Linked DNA regions of Homo sapiens. The protein of the gene in region 3 interacts with the protein of the main gene of each other region in a pairwise test. Each region holds a gene or a part of one and is shown on either strand. Other genes may lie near its edges.

Region 1 (7,756 bases), on a different chromosome or scaffold from region 3:
AAGGACAAATGGGGGAAGATGTTGTTCTGGAGCTGAGGGGATAGGGTCACTGGCAAAAGCTAGAGAATCCCAGTGAACATATTCATGGGGAGGAAAGCTACAAAGGAAATGCATCAGGCCTCAGGACTGAGCTAGGGAACAGGGCTTTTCTTCTTTCCTCCCTTCTTCCAATTTCTTGTCAGTGCCTACCACTGGACAAATCCCAGGTGAAAGTCAGCTGTCACAGTAGCCTAGTGAATACAGCCTGAAAGGGTCAGCCCTCCTACAATACAGAGCAGGGCAAAGGAGGAGAAAGAATAGGTATGAGGGCAAAATGGACAAGGACTGACACAGTAATCAATTCTTTTTAACTTTAAAAATCAACTTTATTGAGGTGTAATTTATATACAATTTATATACAATTTATATACAATTTATATACTTATTTTAAATGCAGACTTGGATAATTTTTTTTTTGAGATGGATTCTGCTATGTTGCCCAGGCTGGAGTGCAGTGGCTATTCACAGGTGCAATCATATTACACTGTAGCCTTGAACTCCTAGGCTCAAACGATCCTCTTGCCTCAGCCTCCAGAGTAGCTGGGACTATAAGCACATGCCACCCTGCCTGGCAATAATTTTTGGCAAATGAGTACACCCATATGACCAATCAGTCAAGATACAGAACATTTTAATCACTTCACAAAGTTCCTGCTTACTCCTTTGCTACAAATCTCCCACCCCATCCCAGTCCCAGGCCACCAGGAATCTGCTTTCTCTCACTATATAGGTTAATTTTGCCTGTTTGGGAATTTTATACAAATGGAAATATATTATGTACTCTTTTGTGCCTGGATTTTTTTTTTTGGCTCAGTATATTTTTGAAATTCATCCATGTTGTGTTTATCAGCAGTTCATTTATTTTTATTGCTGAGTAGTATTCCATTGTATGAATACACTACTTTATCTGTTCATTTGTTGATGGACATCTGGGTTGCTTCCAGGTTTGAGCTGTTATGAATGAAACTTATGTGAACAGTTATGTACAAGTTTTTTTGTGTTTGGGGTGTGTGCAAGTGCATGTGTGTTTGGTGGACATGTTTTATTTCTCATGAATAAAATACCTGGGAGAGGAATTGCTGGGTCATGTAAGAAACTGCCAAACTCAACAATTCTTTTTAACCTTATAAATGTCATTACTATGAATGTCCACAAAAGGACATTGTACATTTCCTCCAAAGAGCAAAGGGTTAGAGGGAGAATAATTTTTATGAGAAAAACTTTAAAAATTTGATACCTTAAAAATACGTTAAACTTTTCATAACAATATTTTTTTTCCTTTTTATTTTTTATTTATTTATTTTTTTTCTGAGACGGAGTCTCGCTCCGTCACCCAGACTGGAGTGCAGTGGCGCGATCTTGGCTCACTGCAAGCTCCGCCTCCCGGGTTCACGCCATTCTCCTGCCTCAGCCTCCCAAGTAGCTGGGACTACAGGCGCCCGCCACCACGCCCGGCTAATTTTTTGTATTTTTAGTAGAGATGGGGTTTCTCCGTGTTAGCCAGGATGGTCTCGATCTCCTGACCTCGTGATCCGCCCGCCTCGGCCTCCCAAAGTGCTGGGATTACAGGCATGAGCCACCGCGCCTGGCCTCCTTTTTAAAAAATATATTTTAGGGACAGGGTTTTTCTTTGTTGCCCAGGCTGGTCTTGAACTCTTGAGTTCAAGCTATCACAGCCTCACAAAGTGCTGGGATTACAGGCGTGAGCCACCATGCCCAGCCCTCAATATTTTTTAATAGATAGTATGCAAGGGGATTAGAAAAGTGTAATAAGAAAGGAGTTGAAAAAGAGAGCAAACTAATGCAAAATAATTACTAAAGACTTCTTGACAATGGCAAAATCATCCTACACAGCTGCTCTGAGATCTCAGCACTTGCTGTCAGCTACCTTCTGGCAAAGCTACTTTGTCAAATGGATGCAATAGGATCCATATTGATCTTTGTGAAGGAATATCTTTATTAATATAAGCAAACACGCCTCTCACTTATAGTAATGTAGAGGTGTGGGCTTTTTCTTTTAGTAGTATTGTTTCCCCAACATATATCACTTTCCTTTGAAATGTGGGCTGAGTCATAAATTAATGTCACAAATGAGGGAGGCAACTATGTTACAAAGTAGGAAGGCGTAGATATGAATTGTTACAGTTGACAGCTAAGTACTCTTGAACTAAATGTCATTATGTCAAATTCTGAGATATTAAACAATTGTTGAAATGTAAAATTGTGGACATTTAGGTTTGCAGCCTAAAAAGTTTTGTCAATCTTTTCTAGACATTCTGAAATGGAAATGAACAGGTGGATTGAAAACAAAGACAAATGAGGAGTTTAAAGACTTTCTTGGCACCTCATAGAGAAGTTGCTCTACGCTGGTTATGTTTTAAACAAAACACATATAAATACATTCAGCATTTCTGGAAACAGATTTATTAGATCTTTCCATTTACCTTTGGGAAAAAAATATAGAGGACTCAAGGCAATTATTCACTATATTCTTTCTATCATGTATTATTTAATCTCAAGCTAGGAGAGGAACTCTGTTTTACATGATGCCATAATGTACATTAGTGAGCTCAACCCACTTAATCTTAAAATAACAGTATCAGGTCAGGGATTTAGAATACAGTATTATATGAAAACAGTTGGCAGAGAGACTCCCTCTTCTGCCATTAATAACTGGAAACGATATTTCAGACCCTAAATCCAACTGAAACCCAGAAACAATACATGGAGAGGATGGGGTGGATAATTTGTGAGAACATGTTTTTCAAAGTAGAGAAAGAATCACTATGTTTTTGCTGAATTATATGTTGCCATGGACATGGCAGTTTGCAGTAATGATGCTATCATCTATACAGCTGTATAACAACACAGCTTCTTTCTCTCCCACTCCTTCAGTAAGGCTTAAAAATAATAGGTTTGTGTGTAGTTTGGTAAGAAAATTAGAATCACTTAAAGTCATTTCAATTCCAACCCAAGAAAGAAAAAAAGAGACTTGGGGGGATGGGGAAGAAGAGCAAACAAAATGTAGAAAAAATACATATTATTGGCCGGGCACGGTGGCTCACGCCTGTAATCCCAGCACTTTGGGAGGCCAAGGTAGGCGGATCATCTGACATCAGGAGTTCGAGACCAACCTGACCAACATGGTGAAACCCTGTCTCTACTAAAAAGACAAAAAAATTAGCCGGGCGTGGTGGCACATGCCTGTAATCCCAGCTACTCAGGAGGGTGAGACAGGAGAATCGCTTGAACCCAGGAGGCAGAGGTTGCAGTGAGCCGAGATCCTGCCATTGCACTACAGCCTGGGCAACAAGAGCAAAACTCCGTCTCAAAAAAAAAAGAAAGAGAAAAGAAAAAATACATATTATATAATGAAGTATAATATGCATTATGCAGAGACTAAAGAGGGGAGTCTTGGTTGCCTGAAAACTAATGGGTAAAATCCATTGAAGTGGGTGAATCCAGTGAAAAGACCTGGATTGAGTCCTTGTTGCATCCCTTGCATGTGACCTTGAGCAAAGTCACCATGTCTTTAAGGCTGTTTTCTCACCTATAAAATGGAATAATTGGCCGGCGTGGTGGGTCACACCTGTAATCCCAGCACTTTGGGAGGCTGAGGCAGGCAGATCACCTGAGGTCAGGAGTTTGAGACCAGCCTGGCCAATATGGTGAAACCCCGTCTCTACTAAAAATACAAAAGTTAGCCGGGGGTGGTGGCAGGCCCCTGTAATCCCAGCTACTTGGGAGGCTGACGCAGGAGAATCACTTGAACCCGAGAGGCGGAGGTTGCAGTGAGCTGAGATCGCGCCACTGCACTCCAGCCTGGGTGACAAGAGCGAGATTGTCTCAAAAAAAAAAAAATCATAACGGTAACGTCCTATACCTCAAGGGACTGTGGTAAGAATTAAAAGGGTGAAATCAATGTGTAAACTATGAAGCCCAATAGAAATAAGGTGTTATACAGACAATTGCACTATTGAATCTCCGGAGACAGAGTTGAGTTAAGGAAAAATGCACTTTCGGAAAGCTTTGGCGACTGAACGACCTGAGTTCTCCAACGCCAAGGCTGGAAGTTTGGAGACCTTGAAACAAGTAAATTACCATTAATATCATAATTTTCAGTTTCCTTTTAAGAAATGAGAGTAACACCACTTTCTTCACAGAATCAAGTGAGAGAGAACCTATGCAAAGGAACTTATCACTTGGTAGGTATTTGAAGCTCCCTCTGCCTGAAAACTACTTATTCAAAGACTGCAACAAAAGGTGTTCACAGTGTGGTATCTTTCAAAACATACGCTAAGGCAAGGAACAGATAAGGAAATGGAAGTACATCCAATTGGGATCCAAGCAACCCAAGTGGGAACCAACAGCTAGACTTGGAGATGTCTTAGCTCACTCTTAACCACGTGAGGGTAGGGTATCCAACCAATAAAGACATTCAGAGTTGGAGAGCGGGCGAGTGGAGTGTCCTTTAGACTCCGCGGACTCGACGGGAGGGACCCTGCAATGCTTAATTAGAACCGGTTGCCATGGCGACAGTCTCTAGGCAGCGTGGGCTGAGCTCTCCGTAGGAATAAAGGGTGGGCCGCCGCTGGACCCTGCGCGCGCCCGCCACCAACTTTCCCTCCAGATCCGAGAGGGGCGGCGCGCTCCGCCCCCGGGCCGCGCACGTCGGTGCTCGGCGGCGCGCACGCCTGCGGGAGCCCTCTCCAGGCAACCTAGTGCTGATCGCTCGTGCCGGTGCGGCCGTTAACCGCCCTTGCCGGAGCCCTAGGCTCAAAAGCAGCCCCTTACCCTTCCTGGGCTTCCCCCAACCCCTTTCCCGGTCTGCCCTGGGGCATGAGCAGCGATGGCCGGCTGCATCCCTGAGGAGAAAACTTACCGGCGCTTCCTGGAGCTATTCCTGGGCGAGTTTCGCGGACCGTGCGGCGGCGGCGAGCCGGAGCCGGAACCCGAACCCGAACCCGAACCCGAACCCGAGTCCGAGCCCGAGCCCGAACCTGAACTGGTAGAAGCTGAGGCGGCCGAGGCTTCGGTAGAGGAACCCGGGGAGGAGGCGGCCACGGTAGCCGCGACGGAGGAGGGGGACCAGGAGCAAGACCCGGAGCCCGAGGAGGAGGCGGCGGTTGAGGGTGAGGAGGAGGAGGAGGGCGCGGCGACGGCGGCGGCAGCCCCGGGGCACTCGGCCGTGCCGCCGCCGCCGCCCCAGCTGCCGCCTTTGCCCCCGCTCCCGCGACCGCTGTCAGAGCGCATCACCCGCGAGGAGGTGGAGGGCGAAAGCCTGGACCTGTGCCTGCAGCAGCTCTACAAATAGTTAAGTAGCTGGGCTTGGCTGGTGGTGGGCCCGCGGTCCCCACCGCGCCGGCCTCGGACGCGGCTCCCTCGGCCCCTCAAACTGCTCTCTTTTCTGCTCCTCTCCCCCGCACCCGCGCCTGCCGCCGCTGAAAGCGCCCCCGCTGCTCGGACCCGGGCGGTCGGCTGAGAGCTGCCCACGCCCGCCTCGGCCCCCACGCCCGCCTCGGCCCCCACGCCTCCTACCCGGCCTTGAAGCCGCTCTCCTGAGCCCCGGCGCCCTCCCGCCGGGCCCGGGCCCCTCATCCCCTTTCACCTCGGCCCCCAGCTTCTAGCTCCACTTCACGCAACCTTTCCCTTTCCTGCCTGGAAAGGTCCTTCCTCCCAGGCTTGAGCTCCCTCTTCTTCCCAGATCCCTTCTTTCTCCGGGAGGTTTCCTCCCACCCCAGTCTGTCTTTTCCCGGGCTGAGTGCCTTGTTGTTTGGCGGCAGAGACGCGACTCCTTTCTAGACTGAGCTGCGAGGTGCCTCCTGCGTAACTGCAACAATGATGGTTATACCGGCCCCGTATCCAGATGAGAGAATGGAGTAGATTTTCCGTCAGGTGCTCAGTGTTGAAAGTGAAGGGCTTTTTAGATGTTTTCACACAGGGAAGCCTAGTCTCTTAGTTTAGACATTTGACATTCCATAATTGAGGGAAGTGGGAAGGAATTGAGAGGGAAGGGTAAGCAAAATTTTGCAAGCAAGCCTTCGGGTGAAAGAGCCATAATTCATTAAAGTGGAAAAGTCAGGCTGTTTTGATTAAATTGCAATTAGGTGCAGTATTTTCAGTCCATTAAGTAGATGGGATGGGGTGGGGAGAAAGCAGATGGCTTAGCTACACAGATGAAAGTCTAAAATAGAAAGGTCAAGGCTTTGCCTTTCATCCCAGTTCTGGTTTTTATAGGCCTGAAATAGAAACGGTTTACAATTGCGTTTCTCAATGGAATTGTTCCGAAATAATGACAGAGGAGAATACTAGTAAGTCTCTGAAAACATTGGTAAACCTGGGAAGTCTTTTGCCATTCAGCTGATAGTTGTAATGAAAGGTGTTACTCTGGCCACCCAAAAAGTTTACTACTGCAAGATTCGCTGTAATTAAGTTCAAACTCACTTTTGGGATTTTCTCAAAAGCCTAAAGAAAAGAAGGGCCTGGAAAGTAAACCTGTTTTGTCTTCATCCAAGCTAATAGACACCTGATCAGATCATTCTCCTGTTAAAGCAGCAGTTTATCAATAGGGGAAAATCATTTAACAAATCTTCCATAGAAGTGGACTGTGTTGGTATTTCATAATATAAGCTATCTAAAATTTAATTTTAAAATACTGTTCAATTACAGTATTACCGTCAATTAGCAAGGTAATGATGCTTTTTGAGAAACGTAAAATATAAAATGGCGTGTAATACCACCACCCAGAGATAAACAGTATTAACATTTTAGAGTATATCTGGTCTTTGTGAACTATCATAGACAAGGGCTTCTGAGATGTAATTTTTTACAGTATTTAAAGATAAAGCTCCCTGCTTAAAATAAAATGGAAATGTTTATTAAGGGAATTTATCTTAGCAGCAGACTGGCTCTATCTTGACAGTTAATTCTTACCTTTACAAATGCAGTTTGCAGAATTAAACCAATTCAAACTTTAGAAAGTGTCCAAATAAGGTCATTATTTTAGTACAACCCTGAACATTTGCCATGTAAGAAGGTTTTTTTTTTTTAACTTATTTAAAGATGATGGCAAGAAGATGTGTGTTTTTTCATATAGAAGCGGCCAGGAGCGGTAGCTCACTCCCGTAATCCCAGCTCTTTGGGAGGCCGGGGTGGCAGATCATGAGGTCAGGAGTTCGAGACCAGCCTGACCAACGTGGTGAAACTGCGTCTCTACTAAAAATACAAAAATTAGCTGGGCGTGGTGTCGCGCGCCTGTAATCCCAGATACTCAGGAGGCTGAGGCAGGAGAATCGCTTGAACCCGAGAGGCAGAGGTTGCAGTGAGCTGAGATTGTGCCAGTGCACTCCAGCCTGGGTGACAGAGCAAGACTCCGTCTCAAAAAAAAAAAAAAAGATTAATTTTGATATAGGTATAAACTAGAAAAAACTGAAATGATAAAATGGCCATCTAGTTGAGAACAGAAGTTTGGATTTGAAATAAAACTAGCAAAATTAAAGTTGGAAAATATTTCCGCTTAAATCAGAGATTTCATCATTTATATTGTGTTTTGTACAGAAGTTGTTAATGTATTTTTATTCAGATATAAAATGGCTGGCTTGTTCATGTAAAGTATCTTTAAGGTCCTTAACAGGTTTAAAAACAGTTTTTGCCGGGCACAGTGGCTCATGCCTGTAATCCTAGCAGTTTGGGAGGCTGAGGTGGGCGGAACACCTGT
Region 2 (7,032 bases), about 130 Mb from region 3:
ACTAATCAAAAGCTTTCTATGACTGCTGGTGAGGTACTTTTCAATATATCTTATCTTTACTATACTTCTCTCTCTTCAGTGAGTTTTATACTCTTTATTTAAAAAACCTCATTACAGGATACAAGTTATTACTGTTTTCAGAGTTTAACCTAGTCTCGAGTAGATTTTATAGATGAGAAATCACTATCTGTTAAGTAAGGTTAAATTACAGAGCATAATTACAGTCTGGTTTATTTGAGGGTCTTGGTGTATAGGGAAGGAATCTTAGTCCTTTGTTGACTTGCTGTGGAAACTCAGGCAATTCTCAGAGCCTCTTTTCTTCACAAGACTAACATAATCTTGTTAGGATTGTCCAGGAACCAGAGTACAGTTGCCTGCGCTGAGTGATAATGTAGGGATGGTGGTGATAATTATTTAGCCTCCTTTTAGCAATGTGTAGAACTAGTCTTTTCTGGAAAAAGAGACTGGAAAGGTAAATCATTGATGTGTATAAGAAAAACCATTAAAGACCTCAGTAGGAGGGTCAAGTCACACGGTGATACCAGCCCACAAAATGCCCCCATCTCCAACTTCGGTACCTTAGAGTGCCAGCGACATGCGACATTGCTGGGATGAGAGCCTAGATCTCAATGGTTTGACTGCTGTATAACTTAGCGCAAACTGTTTTCATATTTTTGACCCTCATTGGTAAAATGAGATTGTTGGATTATACTATCTCTAAGGTTTCTTTCCCCACAAAGTATAAAATCTTGTTTTATATTTGTTTCAAGTAGGAAAAAGAATTGCCTTCTAAACAGCAGGCAGAAGTTAAAACAAAATGCACATACCAAATGCACATATCTCTGTTTTTCCTAGAACAGCTTTTTTTCCCTCCTCTCAATTTTTAGTTTACTATACCTTGCTACTTCATTTTATGATGGTTTAGGTAGCTTAGATGGCCAGAGTAGACTGGATATTCGAGTAGCACAATATGGGCAAGAGTGAATACATAAGTTCTTGGCTCATCTAATTGTTAGTGTTTTTATTGAATAAAACTGCCCTAGAAGTACACCCTGATTTTTTTTAAAATGAGAGTATTATTACATTATTTAAGATAATTTCATTAGGAAAGTTTATTGTAATTGGGTAACAAGCATCTCAGAATTGAGATTCCTTTGTTATATGGAAACCCCTCTTTAAAAGTTTTCTTAGACATTTTTCTCTTTAGAGTGCTAGCAAAATGTAATGACATAAATGGACATCACTGTTTTCTTGATGACTCCATTAAAGAAAATTTCTCTTTGATGGAGAAGGTTGGCTTGTTTGTGTTCTCTGTCCATTCTAGTCATCTTTTTCAATTGCTCTTCTGTTGACTCTCCTTCAACTTTGCTTTCACACTGATTCTTGGTGGTGTATATAGTTCTTCATCAGTCCTTGCCCTGGACCAGTCTTGTGTTCTCTTAACGTCTCATTTTCTTCCCCTGTTGGAATTTTCAAAATTTCCTCCGAATTAATAAAATCAGAACTTTTCAGCATTGCTAGGTACAAAAGTTTTCCATTCCCACACGAGGTTTACCCTTTCCCTCTGCATGGGCTCAGAAGATGCATGCAAGGTGGGTTCAGGAAACACATACAAATAAAACTGACACATTATAGAAAATATTGCACATGTCAAATACATATTTGTTTTCTTGAGATTGGTTTTGATTCTGGTGTTGGTAGAATAAGGTAATACGTGATCACTGGAAAAAATATTATAAGCCAGAAACATAGAAAGGGAGTCCCTCATGATCTTCAGCCTCCAGACTACTTCTGCTATGCCAGTATCATCTCTGTGAACAGTTTGGGGAATATCTCCATGTTTTCTAAGCCATGTAATTACATATTTATAGTTACTCCTTTATCATTCATTTTATTTTATAAAAATGAGAGTATGCAATGGCTTGCTTTTTTCACTTAATATATTTTTATATTATTCCACCTTATTACAAATTGGTCTCATTCTTTTCAATGGCTGATTGTATGATTATATGGATGTCCTACAGTTTAGTTCACCAGTTTCCTCCTCATTCCATTTACTTATGTTTTCAAGATTTTCAGTACTTTACAAGCATAGACATAGGGAACATCCATATACATGGATTTTGTATACTTCTGCCAGAGAGGATATTAACCTCATTGTGTTGTGTGTGTTGCACATATTATTTTCTAGCTTGTCTTTTGGTTTTGCTGCTTTTTACTAACTTTAAATATGAAAGATAAATAAAATGATGTTTCTGAGGTTGGCCACACTATCCAAGAATAGACTCAGATTTTATAAGCAATCTTTGTTTTTAATGCTGCCATTTTAAATCACCGTGAAGGTAATTAATGATTTTGGACAATGACCATCTTAAAATGGGGCATAGAATTTATTTAAGGTTTGTCACAGTAAAAACTATATTTGAGATTGAGTTTCCTTAAATTGAAATTTCAGTTTGGGTCACCATTCCTGAAACCATTTCTGATACATTGTTGAATTACAAGAGAGTTATTCAGTGATCAAATTGACACATTAGGAATGAGAATTCAACATATAGACACATGGCTCTTCAAATTCATCATCATTTTCCCGAAAACTTTTTAGGGTAAATTGAGATTATGTAAATCAAATTTTAATGTGTACTTTCATGGAATTATGAAAGAGATCCTTTTGTAAAGCAAATAATTGCCCCGTAATTCAGCTGGTAAATATGTACTTAAAATATGCAGTACACCTTTCATTACGTTGTTTAAGTCTTCAAATGAAAGTTGCAAGTAAAATCTCAGCTACATAATATTATATTTACCTAGGATATGGGGGGAGGTATTACAGATTCCTTATTCCTTGCCTGTACACCCTTGATTTGGGGAGATTTGAGAAAAATTTAAGTACAGTCTGTAATCCTATGAACTTCATATACACATACAATCTATGTGTTATATTAAGTCTTAAAACTAACCCAATAAGCTTTTTTTCTTCCTGGCTTTGTAGTTTACTTCACCTCGCAGTGGTATCTTCTGAGTAAACCATCAGTCTGTGCTTAGTTAACATGTGGTGAGTGAAGAACAATGTCTTGTGTCTTTTGTGCAAAAATCAAATGTGTTGCCTGATACTAACCATTTTGCTGGAATTCTTTTGCTCTTGTTTAATAAATATATGATTATGCTATGGGTTAATATAAGTATTTTCTGTTCATTCTGTTATATGGATCGATAATAGTTAAAAATTACTACCACCAGTAAGAGTTATATAATTTTAGGAAATTTCATTTCTTTAAAGAGTAATTGAAAGTTTGAAAATTGCTCTTTGAAATTTTGTTAAAGAATCCAAAAAAGTATTTATGTAACTTATTTTCCCTTTTGTTTTTAATTTTCCAAGAATGATCTTTGAAATTATGATTGTGAGAGAGAAATGAAAAATCATTTTCTAGATAAAAATGAAGTGGTATATTCCGTGAGAATTCAAAATCCTGTAAAGCCTGAGTCAAGGCCAGTCAGAAATAATGAAAACTAGTAAGATCAATTTTAAAATATAGCTTCATTACTTCCTGAAATCAGACAGTTTAACACAAGACAACACATTTGTCCTGAGGAGACCGTTAGGCAGCCTACTTTAATTGAATGTGATTCTTCCTGATTAACATATTACAGTGAAATGCAGGCATATGAAATGTTTCAACGCAGTTGACTGTCTTCATCATTTAAACCCTCTCCCCTCATCTCTATGTATTTTTCATGCTATTAGGTTGATTTAGCACCCTCTGAAAATGTACCATACATCTTTACCTCAGCCTTTGCTAGAATTTTCACAAAATCAAAAACAGATCACAATTAGTAGGGCTTCACTATAATTAAAATAAATACTCTCAGTGATTGTTAATATCCAGCTAATAATAGTATCAAGGTTTAAAATGGCAAGATACAACATTTCTCCGTTCTTTTAAGCTTTTATTTATTTATTTATTTATTTATTTATTTATTTATTTATTATTTTTTTTTTTTTTGAGACGGAGTCTCGCTCTGTCGCCCAGGCTGGAGTGCAGTGGCGGGATCTCGGCTCACTGCAAGCTCCGCCTCCCGGGTTCACGCCATTCTCCTGCCTCAGCCTCCCAAGTAGCTGGGACTACAGGCGCCCGCCACTACGCCCGGCTAATTTTTTGTATTTTTTTTTAGTAGAGACGGGGTTTCACCGTTTTAGCCAGGATGGTCTCGATCTCCTGACCTCGTGATCCGCCCGCCTCGGCCTCCCAAAGTGCTGGGATTACAGGCGTGAGCCGCGCCCGGCCTTATTTATTTTTTTTTAAAAAATAAGTAAAGCCTTTATCACCCTGGCTGGAGGGCAGTAGTGTGATCATAGTTCATTCCTGTGTCAGCTCCTGGGCTCAAGGGATCCTCCCACCTCAGCCTCCCAAATAACTGGGACTCTAAGGCACCTATTTTTTTATTTTATTTTATTTTGTAGTGATGGTCTTGCATAGGCTGGTCTCGAACTCCTGGGCTCAAGCGATCTTCCTACCTCAGCCTCTAAGCTTTTTTTTTTTTTTTTTTTTGAGACGGAGTCTCGCTCTGTCACCCAGGCTAGAGTGCAGTGGCGTGTTTTTGGCTCACTGCAAGCCCCGCCTCCTGGGTTCACACCATTCTCCTCCCTCAGCCTCCTGAGTAGCTGGGACTACAGGTACCCGCCACCATGCCCAGCTAATTTTTTGTATTTTTAGTAGAGACAGGGTTTCACCGTGTTATTCAGGATAGTCTCGATCTCCTGACCTCATGATCTGCCCACCTTGGCCTCCCAAAGTGCTGGGATTACAGGCGTGAGCCACTGTGCCTGGCCCTCTAAGCTTTTATCTTTAAAAATCTTCTGTGCCTTCATTTGAGCCTCCTTTTGATTTTAATATATATTATTTGATTTGCCTTAGCGATTATCCAGAACTGTCTTATTTTTGTCATCCACATTACAATGGCTGGCAGTACAATGCATGGTTTTATTAGGTTACTTTGATAATAAATGTGAACATTGAAAAACTGTAAATTCTATAGCTAACCCATTAAGTCTTAATGTTTTCCTTTTAAAATAATACTGCATTGTACTTGTTATTATTGCAGCTGAATATCAATTATCACTGGAAATGTATATTGTGCAGCATTTCTATTAATTGATTAATTGATTGTCTCCTCAACTTTTAGTTTGAAACATTTCAGACATAAGATTTGCAAAAATAGTACAATGAACACCCATATACCCTTCACCTAGTAATGTTTGGCCAGATTTTCTGACTTGCTGTCACTCTTGTTCTCTCTCCATTTATATTATTCCCCATTTGTAACATTTGGCAATTACTTGCCGACATGCTTGCAAGCATTTGACAATTGTAAACATAAACTAAGTACTTTAGCATGTATCTTTAAGAACAAGGACATTTTTCTACATACAGTACAGTTATTACACTCAGGAAGTTTAATATTAGCTAATACTAATATATAGTACATAATACTCAGTTTTTTACAGTTTTCCAAATAATGTCTCCCATAATTTTTTAGAATCCAGGATCCACTTGAGATTTCACATTGCATTTAGTGGTCATATTTTCCTAGTCTTTTTTAAACTAGAAAACGTCTAGCTTTTTTGTTTTTAATGATGCAGCATTGTTGAACTGATCTTGAATTTTGTTTCCCACAACAGATCAAGCTACGGTTTCAAAATAAAAACTGACAAGGAATTTACGTATAACAGAAGATCTTGTTGGTGTCTTCTTTAGGTTCCTAGGACCAACATGATTATTGAACTAGTTTTATAAATAATATACTATTAGTAGTACATTATGAGTAGTGAAATATTTGTTCATTTACAAATTCAGAAGACTAAAACTCCCCCTATCCACTTAATATATATGGAAAGTTTGCCTCTATTAATCTTACTTGGTAATTTATTTTTATGGGATTTTAAACTCATATCTTGATGTGACTACTGGTTTTAGCATTTTCTTTTCCTTTTCTTTTTTTTATATTTGAGACGGAGTTTCACTCTTGTTGCCCAGGCTAGAGTGCAGTGGCGCAATCTCGGCTCACTGCAACCTCCACCTCCCAGGCTCAAGTGATTCTCCTGCCTCAGCCTCCTGAGTAGCTGGGGTTACAGGTGCCCGCCACCACACCCAGCTTATTTTTTGTATTTTTAGTAGAGACCGGGTTTCACCATGTTGGCCAGGCTGGTCTCGAACTCCTGACCTCAGGTGATCCACCTGCCTTGGCCTCCCATAGTGCTGGGATTACAGGCGTGAGCCACTGCTCCTGGCCAGCATTTTCATTTGAGAAACATTATGAGGAAGACTTTGGCTATGTCATAGCTTTTTTTTTTTTTTTTGCCCCCCAGCATGGTCACACCAGCCTAGAGTGCAGTGGCGTGAACACAGTTCACTGCAGCCTTGACCTCCTGGGCTCAAGGAATCCTCCCGCCTCAGCCTTCTGAGTAGCTGGGACCACAGACACATGCCACCACACCTAGCTATTTTTTTTAAAAAAAAGTTTGTAGATACAGGGTCTTGCCATGTTGCCCAGGCTGGTCTTGAACTCCTGGGCTCAAGCAGTCCTCTGACCCTGGTCTCCCAAAAGTGCTGGGATTATAGGCATAAGCCACCATGCCCAGCCAGCATTTCTAATTAATTTATTTTTTGAGACAAGGTGTCACTGTCGCCAAGCCTGGAGTGCAGTGGTACAGTCAGCTCACTGCAGCCTTGACTTCCCAGGCTCAAGCGATCCTCCTGCCTCAACCTCCTGAGTAGCTGGGACTACAGACACACACCATCATGCCTGTCTAATTTTTTCTATTTTTTGTAGCAATGGGATCTCACTATGTTGCCCAGGCTGTTTTTAATTTTTAAATTAAATTTCTTAATTCCAGATGAGACATAAATTTCCACACCAAAATGCTGTTTGTCTTTTGCTATTATGTCATGCTGGGAGAATTGCAATTTGTAGAATAATCAGCACACTGGATAAGAGGAAAGAGCTCTTTCTCATCTTTATTTTTTATTGTTT
Region 3 (7,788 bases):
TGGCATTACAGGCGTAAGCCACGGTGCCCGATGGAGGAAAACCATATCTATAAGCCCTACCAGACTTCTCTGCACTTCTCAGTAGTCAGTGTTGAATGATATGCCTATGTCTAAACCAATCATTAGGAGAGAGAATAGAATGGGGCTGGGGAGAATCTATATGTTTTACACACATGGAGGGTAAATTGTCAAAATCGGTGTTTTACTAGTAAGGAAGAAAGAATGGCTTTGAGCAGGTAACAGAGTTTGCTACCTTTGTTTATCATTGTCTTTTGTAACACACACTTTGTTTTTGGATTCAGTTTACTCTTTGGTGGAAGACATTCTCTAAAAGTAATTTCAAGGATGGGCAGCAATCTCAACTCTTACATATCTGAAAATATGTGTCATTATTTTGTACCCTCTCTTAAGTGCTAATTTAGTTTGGTAGTCTAGGTTAAAAACAATTCCCTTAGAGGCTGGGCGTGGTGGCTTGCACCTGTAATTCCAACATTTTGGGAAGCCGAGGTGGAATCCCAGGAATTTGAGACCAGCCAAGGAAACTTACTGAGACTCCAGCTCTAAAAAAAAAAAAAAAAAAAAAAAAAAAAATTAGCCAGGCATGGCAGCACGCACTTGTGGTCCCAGCTCAGTTATTGGGTGGTGGTGGGGTTAAGGTAGTTAAGGTGGGAGGATAGCTTGAACTCACTGAGGTCCTGCAATGAGCCAGCCACACACTCCAGTCTGGGTGACAGAGAGAGACTGTGTCTCAAAAACAAAACAAAACAAGACAAAACACCATTACAATGATTTCCTTAGAATACTGTTCCATTGTCTATTAGCATCCATTGTTGCTGATGAGAAGGTAATCCAGTTAAGATTTACTTTTTATCCTTCATGCTCTGAAATCTCACTGTGAGGTGTTTAAGTGTGTTATTTTTTACCTATGCATTTGGCTCAGAGCTAAATGAGAGCTTTTTACTTAAAGATACTGGAATATTTTCTTTTTTTCATTCTTGTTGCCCAGGCTGGAGTGCAATGGCACGATCTTGGCTCACTACAACCTCCACCTCCAGGGTTCAAGCAATTCTCCTGCCTCAGCCTCCCTAGTAGCTGGGATTACAGGCATGCATTGCCACACCCGGCTAATTTTGTATTTTTAGTAGAGACGGGGTTTCTCCATGTTGGTGAGACTGGTCTTGAACTCCCTACCTCAGGTGATCCGCCCTCCTCAGCCTCCCAAAGTGCTGGGATTACAGGTGTGAGCCACCGTGCCCAGTCAAGATACTGGAATATTTTCTACCATTTTTTGAGTATTTCCTTCCATCCATTCTCTAGATCCCTTATCAGATGAATATTGGGCCTTCTGGATTTATTCTCCATGTTACTTAAATTACTTAAATGCCTTGGACTAGGTAATTTATAAACAACAGAAACAGAATTGCTCACAGTTCTGCGGCCGGAAAGTCCAAGATCAAGATATCAGCGGATTTGAAGTCTGCTGAGGGCTCCTTTCTCACAGATGGCCCCTTCTATGCATCTTCATGTGGTGGAAGGGCGAACAGGCTCCCTCAAGCTTCTTTTCTCAGGGCACTAATCCAGTTCATGAAGGATCTGCCCTCATGATCTAATCACCTCTTAAAGGTTCCACCTCTTAATACTATCACTATGGGGGTTAGGTTTCAACACATAAATTTTGGGAGACACAAACATTCAGATAGAACAAATGCTTAGAAAAATATCTGCAGCATAGTATTACTTATTATTCAAATTTTCTATTCATTTTTATAAAGAGGGTCTCCCTCTGTCGCCCAGGCTGGAGTGCAGTGGCTTATCTTGGCTTGCTGCAGCCTCAACCTCCCGGACTCAAGCAATTCTTCCACCTCAGCCACCCTAGTAGCTGGGATTGCAGGGGTGTACCACTATGCCCACCTAATTTTTGTATTTTTTGTAGAGATGGGGTTCTACCAAGTTGCCCAGGCGGGTCTCGAACTCCTGGACTCAAACTATCCTCCCAACCTGTCCTCCCAAAATGTTGGCATCACAGGTGTGAGCCACCACCGTGCCTGGCAGAAATCTTTAGCAAAAAAATTAGGTATCATTGTTGGAGTCTCCTTTTCCTCTTCCTCTTTTCTCATTATCCTGAAGTTAATCTGTATCCTTACTGCCTGTATCCATGCTTTATATAGTTTACTACATATTTATACATATGTAAACAGCATAGTGTATTATTCGGCAGGTTTTCAAACTGCACATAAATGGTGTCAGTTCTCTTAATCCTTCAGATTACATCAAGAAAAAAATCTCAAGTCTTGAATGTTTTTCCTGGTATTTGCTATTCTCTCTTTTAACAAACTAAGAGTAGGCCTTAGGCTAGAAGCCCAGAGCAGGAATTGATGGCTAGCTAGAATTTAATAATACTTCTTTATTTTCCATTATATTTATTTTAATGGTTTCCTCCCCCCTTTTTTTTTCAAAGCAAGTGTTGTTGGCTTTCCATTTAGAGTAGTGATTTATGTTTTCTTTTATATTAAGTGTAAGAAAAAAGTGTTGATTTAAAGAAAAATGTTAAGTAAGTGGTAAAATAGTACAGGCAATACAGAGACATAGGAAAAAATTAGGAAATTTATACTGGAATAGCTGAAATTTGATACACACTTGACCAAAAGGAAAAAGTTCAAGTTCCTCCTTCTCACCTTCCTTTACCAGTTGGAGGTCCCTTTGATACTGCAATCTCTCCTTTTATGGTATTTCCTGCAGCCCACACCCCTGCCTTCCCCTGGCTGTCTCATCAACTTCTCAGGCTCTTAGGAAGCCCTCCTCCATTTAGCACCTGGCATCATACTGCATCTATAACTTTCTCATCTAAAACTAAACTAAATCTGAATGCCAACTTGGCACCCTCGTGGCCCAAACAGCTCACTAATGTCAAAAAAGTTGATCTGTTTGTGATGTTTCAAATATAATCATGAGTATAAAACGAAGGCTTTCCATGGAAAAAATATTTAACTCATATTTCCTTATGTTTGCAGTTTTAAAAAAATAGTTGTTTATAGATCTTAATACTTGATCTTAAATTATCTTCTTTCAACCCTGAGACAATACATTAACCTGTTGTCTAGATGAACGGTAAAAAAACAGGAACACAGAAGAGAAAAAAACAAAGACAATGATGGGAAATAATCTGTTTTTTTTTTTTCATTTCGACGTGGTGGCTTACTGCACGTTACTTACTATGTCGAACCAGATGATTTTAGTAAAAAATGAGTTTAGTAATTTAGTATAACACGTTCAAATGTTTACATACAACGTTTACAGGCAAAAGCTACCAAACTGTTGTGGCCATTGAGATGTTGGAACAATTTTCAAGTTTCATGGTGCATGATCCACAATGCATATGAATACATACAATATCAGTAACAAAAACAGTACAATGTACACCAAAGGTTGTTTCAAAGTCCTCTAATGTCTGCAGTCATGATGAACTAACTGCACTGGCTTTCATTCATTCATTCATAAGACTTATTTTGAAGCTGATCTTCATACTGCATGATTAAGAAACCATCAGTGCAGTGGTCAGAATTACATTCTGCTGTTAACAGAGGAGCAAAGAATGCTTTCAAAGCTACTGCTGTATTTGGAAAAAAGTTCAGTTTTAGTGTTTTCTTTCTAGGTATTTTGCATGGCTAAGGCGGGAGAAGAAGGGCTGCGCGGGGATTGGGGGAAGCGACTTCCCACTCTTGATTACAGAAGGAGAATCATGTATACCACTGTAAAACATCCAACCTTTAAATGAGAAAGTGAGTGAAGTGAAATCGCTCTCACGTACACATCTTCCGCGTTACTTCTTATCCGCCAGCCAAACTTTCTCCATCAATCTGGGTAGGTCTGCCACGAAAACGCAGCCTGAAAGAAATGCTGAGTCCTGAGGCGGCGTGTGTTGCCTCACCCAGTGTTGGCTTTGGAGTTACCTGAAGCCTTCTAGCTACTGCACCCAGAGAGCAAGCTTCTCGTTTCAACTCGGTTGTTTCCGTGGGGAATTGCGGCACGAGCAAGTCCTGGGTGTGGCGATGCCAAGAGAGCGCTCAGATCTCCCATCTTTCCCGCTTCTGGCAAACCTTCCCAGCCCCGAATCGGCGAGTGACCAGCACCCGGGATCAGCCGTCCGGCATTCCGGGGACCGCGGGTGGACCCGACCCCGCCGCAGCTGCAAACTGCCGAAGCGCCCAGCTGGGTGCACTGTGCGTGTGCGCTTCTTCCCTACTCTTTCCGCGCCTGGAGGCGGATCCCCTTCCTTGCACACAAGTCCTTATATGCACCGGTTGCACCAGCCCGCGTTACTCCGGCCCCACAAATAATTAATGGGGGAGGGAGGGTGTCGCTTTTTTTTCCTCCGGCTTTTTCTCAGCGCGAGAGCATTTGAACCGAGGAGAAACCCCAAGACGCGACTGAAGGGCCATTTTGCTGCAGTGCACGAATTGGCCACACAAAAATAGAGCTTGGGTCCCTATGATAACAAGTCAAGGTTCAGGAACAGCCCCTTCGGGTTCGGCCCGAGGAGCCCGCAAAAGCCTGGGCGGAAAGGGTGCGCGCCCCTCCCCCCTCCACGCTGGTGCAGAGGGACCGGGTCAGGAAGCGCGGCCTCTCCCCAGTCCAAGACCACGCCTCCTCCGCCTCCCCACTCCCCCTTCACTCCTCCCAGGAAGCGGTGATAGACAGTTCTGCGTGGTTCTCCACCCCCACCCTCCCCCTGCTGAGTGGAGGAGTTGATGTGTCTCATTATAACAGCCAATGCAGCCGCCATCCACGCACAAGCAAAGAAGCATGTCCCATTTAAATACACCCACGCAGCCCCAGCGCCCTTAGCCGATCGGGGCGCTCAGCCCACACGCACCGCTGCTCGGGGCTTGGAGATCCGCGCAGGCTGGGCTCCCGGACCCGGCGGACCGACGCGCGGAGGATCGGGATCCGGCGCTGTGGGGCTGGGGTGGGCGGGGGAGGCTGGGCCCGGGGCCTCTGGCGCGACACCCGCATGAGGACGCGAGTGAAATAGACCAAGGTGGAATTTCCAAGGGAAAAGCTTCGGGGTGGTTTTGGTCCATTTCTCCAGCGAAGAAGTAGACATGGCGAGCGACTCCCCGGCTCGAAGCCTGGATGAAATAGATCTCTCGGCTCTGAGGGTGAGCAGGACGTTTTCTGGTTTCTTTCCAGTGGTTTGGGTTAGGGTGAATGGGCTCGGTGCGTGGACTGGGGGCTGGGGCTGGGGCAGGGGGACAGCAGCGGGAGAATGCGTCGGGGAGGGAACCTGGATTCCCGTTTTGATTCGGGGTTGCTGAGGTGCTCCTGGCTGAGCCCCTACGGCAGGGGCTGTGCGGTACGTGTCTTCCTCTGGCCGTGGCTTAGGCTCTCCCGAGGGCTCGTAGAGCTTATGCCAGTTTCATCTTATACCGGTGTAAGAGCATTAAAATGAAAGGCGTGTGTGCGTGTGTGTGTGTGTGTGTGTGTGTGTGTACACGCCCCGGGCAGTTGTCTGGTGCCAAGGCGCGAGACCCGACTGTCCCTTCTGCAAAAAGAATGCCAGCGTGAATAAAGGCACTGGCCCCTCACGTTTTCCAGCTACCTGCAAGATGACATTGTGAGGCTGGCTGTCCCCGCGAAGCCGAACCTGCCGCTCCAAGGGGGCAGTTATTGCTATGCTGGTCTTGTAGATGGCAACTGCCTCCCCCTCCCCCTTTTCTACCTCCCGCGCCCGGGCGCCCTCTCAGCGCTCCCTTAAATGCCAGTCTGCCACTCACCTTTATTTATGGCTTTAACTCAGCCCTGCCTGTTCTTTCTGACTTTGTGGCTGTAACGTTTCAGTTTTATGGCTGAACTTAAGCAGGTGAAAGGGATGTGTTTTCTGCTTTTCCTCAATCAGACCGGAACTCCCTGGAGTGTGTGCGAGTGTGTGTGTGTGTGTGTCTGTGTGTGTTTTCCCCGTGTCTGTGGCCAGTCCTTTGTAGAGCACCTCCCTCCCCCCAGCCCCACTGGTTTGCGTTTACCTTCACGTGAATTACCTCAGACGCCGTTTCATTGTATTGACTAAGACATCACTGATATAGAATCCATTTTGCTGTTGTTTTGAGATCAGAATACCAGGAATCCAAGTGCTGCTTCGACGCTTCCCCACCCCCAACTCCCGATCCCAACACACTCCTTTGGGGAAGGGGGCAGAGCTTTCTTGCCATTTTAATTAGATGCTGCCTGCCTGGAAGGGGGTGAGGGGTGGGGATGGTGGCAGCAGCGGGTGTCTGAGAAGGATTGGACACCAATTTAAGGACTGCTTCTTCCTCTCCCGAACCAAAAATAAAATTAAAAAGAAAGCGAGTGCATATACTTGATGTATGGAGGGTGGATGAGAAGGAATTCATGGTGGCTCTCTACAGGGAGACACCAGGATGGATGAAGCATGGAAGTTCACACGCCCTCCTGAGGAATACATTGTTAGATTGATGCTGAATCTTGGGGCCATTTACCTGGATTCCTAGTACTTCTGACATTGCCGCTATCTGCACTGATATATTAAAGTGCTACCTTTGTGATCAAAGTGGTACTTTCTCTTTGGTCTCCTTAATTAAACCTTTTCCTCCACATCTCTTTGAATAAGTCTTTCTCTCTTCGTCTTAATCTGTTGGGCTAAGAGATGAGGTTTCAGCAAGGCAAGTAAGGAGTTGAGAAGAAACAGAGATGCCGTTTGAAATGGGCTGTTCTGATAGTTGGGCAGCCAAAGCTCATTCATGCATTATTACAGGAAGCTGTCTATTTCCCTGGAGTGGAAATGCCACATCAAGAACCGGCTGCCCCCTGCGCAGCGGGGTGGGGTTGGTAACAGGGTGGGTGCATTGGCCAGGTCTGTGGCTTCCTGCTTTACCGACTGTGTGTGTTCATTTGCCCTACTTTCTACGCTGGGAGTTGCTGCCGGCGAGTTAATCAGGTGGATGGATGGCCCCGACTGGGGGTGGGGTGCTGCGAATCGGTCGGAGGTCGGGGTGGGGGGCGGGAAGTGGCAAAGGGGGAAGGGGTCTGAACAATGCGCAGGGCTTGCGGTGATTTCCCTGGGCCGGAATCTCGACCTTGCTCCTCTACTGGAAAGCAGTCTGATGTGATTTTAAGTTGGGCCGGGACTTGTCCCTTATGGGCTTTTTCCTCGGGAAGGTTTTCTGAGATACCAAGCACGGAGCCTGCAGGCAGGGGAGCAACCGGTGAGGGCCCACTGGGCGGACGACTGCGGTTCACACTTGGGATGTGCTTTCTTGTGATCTGTATTTTGAAAATATATCTTTGCACAATTCACTGAAATTGCTCTTTGTGGCCTGGGCTATCAGCTTAGGGCTCTGCTTCTGTTTTTCTGCCTGCTGGGAGGTGTGGAAACAGAGAGGGCAACAGCTAGCTTGGGGACCAGGAACTGCTGGCTAGAAGACTTAGATGCAGATGTGGAGACAGTTATATCCTGGAGGGCCAGGGTCTTTGACCAGTCTTGTGGGTGAGGTGTGTCTGCTGGAGTGGGTCCAAAGGCCACATAGGTAATCTCCACAAATCAGAGGGCAGATCATCTCCACCTTGCCACATTTGGAGAGGTGGCCTCATCTAGATGAGATGTCTCATTTGTTCCTAAGCCCTTGGTAAAGTCTGCCTGCTGAGCCCCTCCTGGGGAATGCCTGACCCCTGAAATGCAGCCAAGGTCAGTGGCTTCTGGGAGAATTTGCTGCAGACTTACCAGTCCCTCGCTGTTTCGGTGGCTCTTTAATGTACACAGTCAATGCTCTTTTT

Evidence for each region. Proteins that work in one complex are often made in the same cells at the same time.
Region 1: the proteins of TNIK (region 3) and PPM1E interact in a two-hybrid assay, tested with the Homo sapiens proteins (2 studies listed by BioGRID and IntAct).
Region 2: the proteins of TNIK (region 3) and GOLGA4 interact in a two-hybrid assay, tested with the Homo sapiens proteins (2 studies listed by BioGRID and IntAct).

What each region holds. Positions count from the first base shown.
Region 1 is NC_000017.11:58,751,110-58,758,865, forward strand, and holds the start of PPM1E (protein phosphatase 1E), read left to right. Parts: upstream 1-4,744; 5' UTR 4,745-4,888; coding exon 4,889-5,352; intron 5,353-7,756. UniProt on the Homo sapiens protein: Protein phosphatase that inactivates multifunctional CaM kinases such as CAMK4 and CAMK2. Dephosphorylates and inactivates PAK. May play a role in the inhibition of actin fiber stress breakdown and in morphological changes driven by TNK2/CDC42.
Region 2 is NC_000003.12:37,358,251-37,365,282, forward strand, and holds part of GOLGA4 (golgin subfamily A member 4), read left to right. Parts: intron 1-2,992; coding exon 2,993-3,022; 3' UTR 3,023-3,055; intron 3,056-7,032. UniProt on the Homo sapiens protein: Involved in vesicular trafficking at the Golgi apparatus level. May play a role in delivery of transport vesicles containing GPI-linked proteins from the trans-Golgi network through its interaction with MACF1. Involved in endosome-to-Golgi trafficking.
Region 3 is NC_000003.12:171,457,378-171,465,165, reverse strand, and holds the start of TNIK (TRAF2 and NCK-interacting protein kinase), read left to right. Parts: upstream 1-4,760; 5' UTR 4,761-5,102; coding exon 5,103-5,159; intron 5,160-5,774; exon of another isoform or gene 5,775-5,948; intron 5,949-6,994; exon of another isoform or gene 6,995-7,220; intron 7,221-7,788. UniProt on the Homo sapiens protein: Serine/threonine kinase that acts as an essential activator of the Wnt signaling pathway. Recruited to promoters of Wnt target genes and required to activate their expression. May act by phosphorylating TCF4/TCF7L2.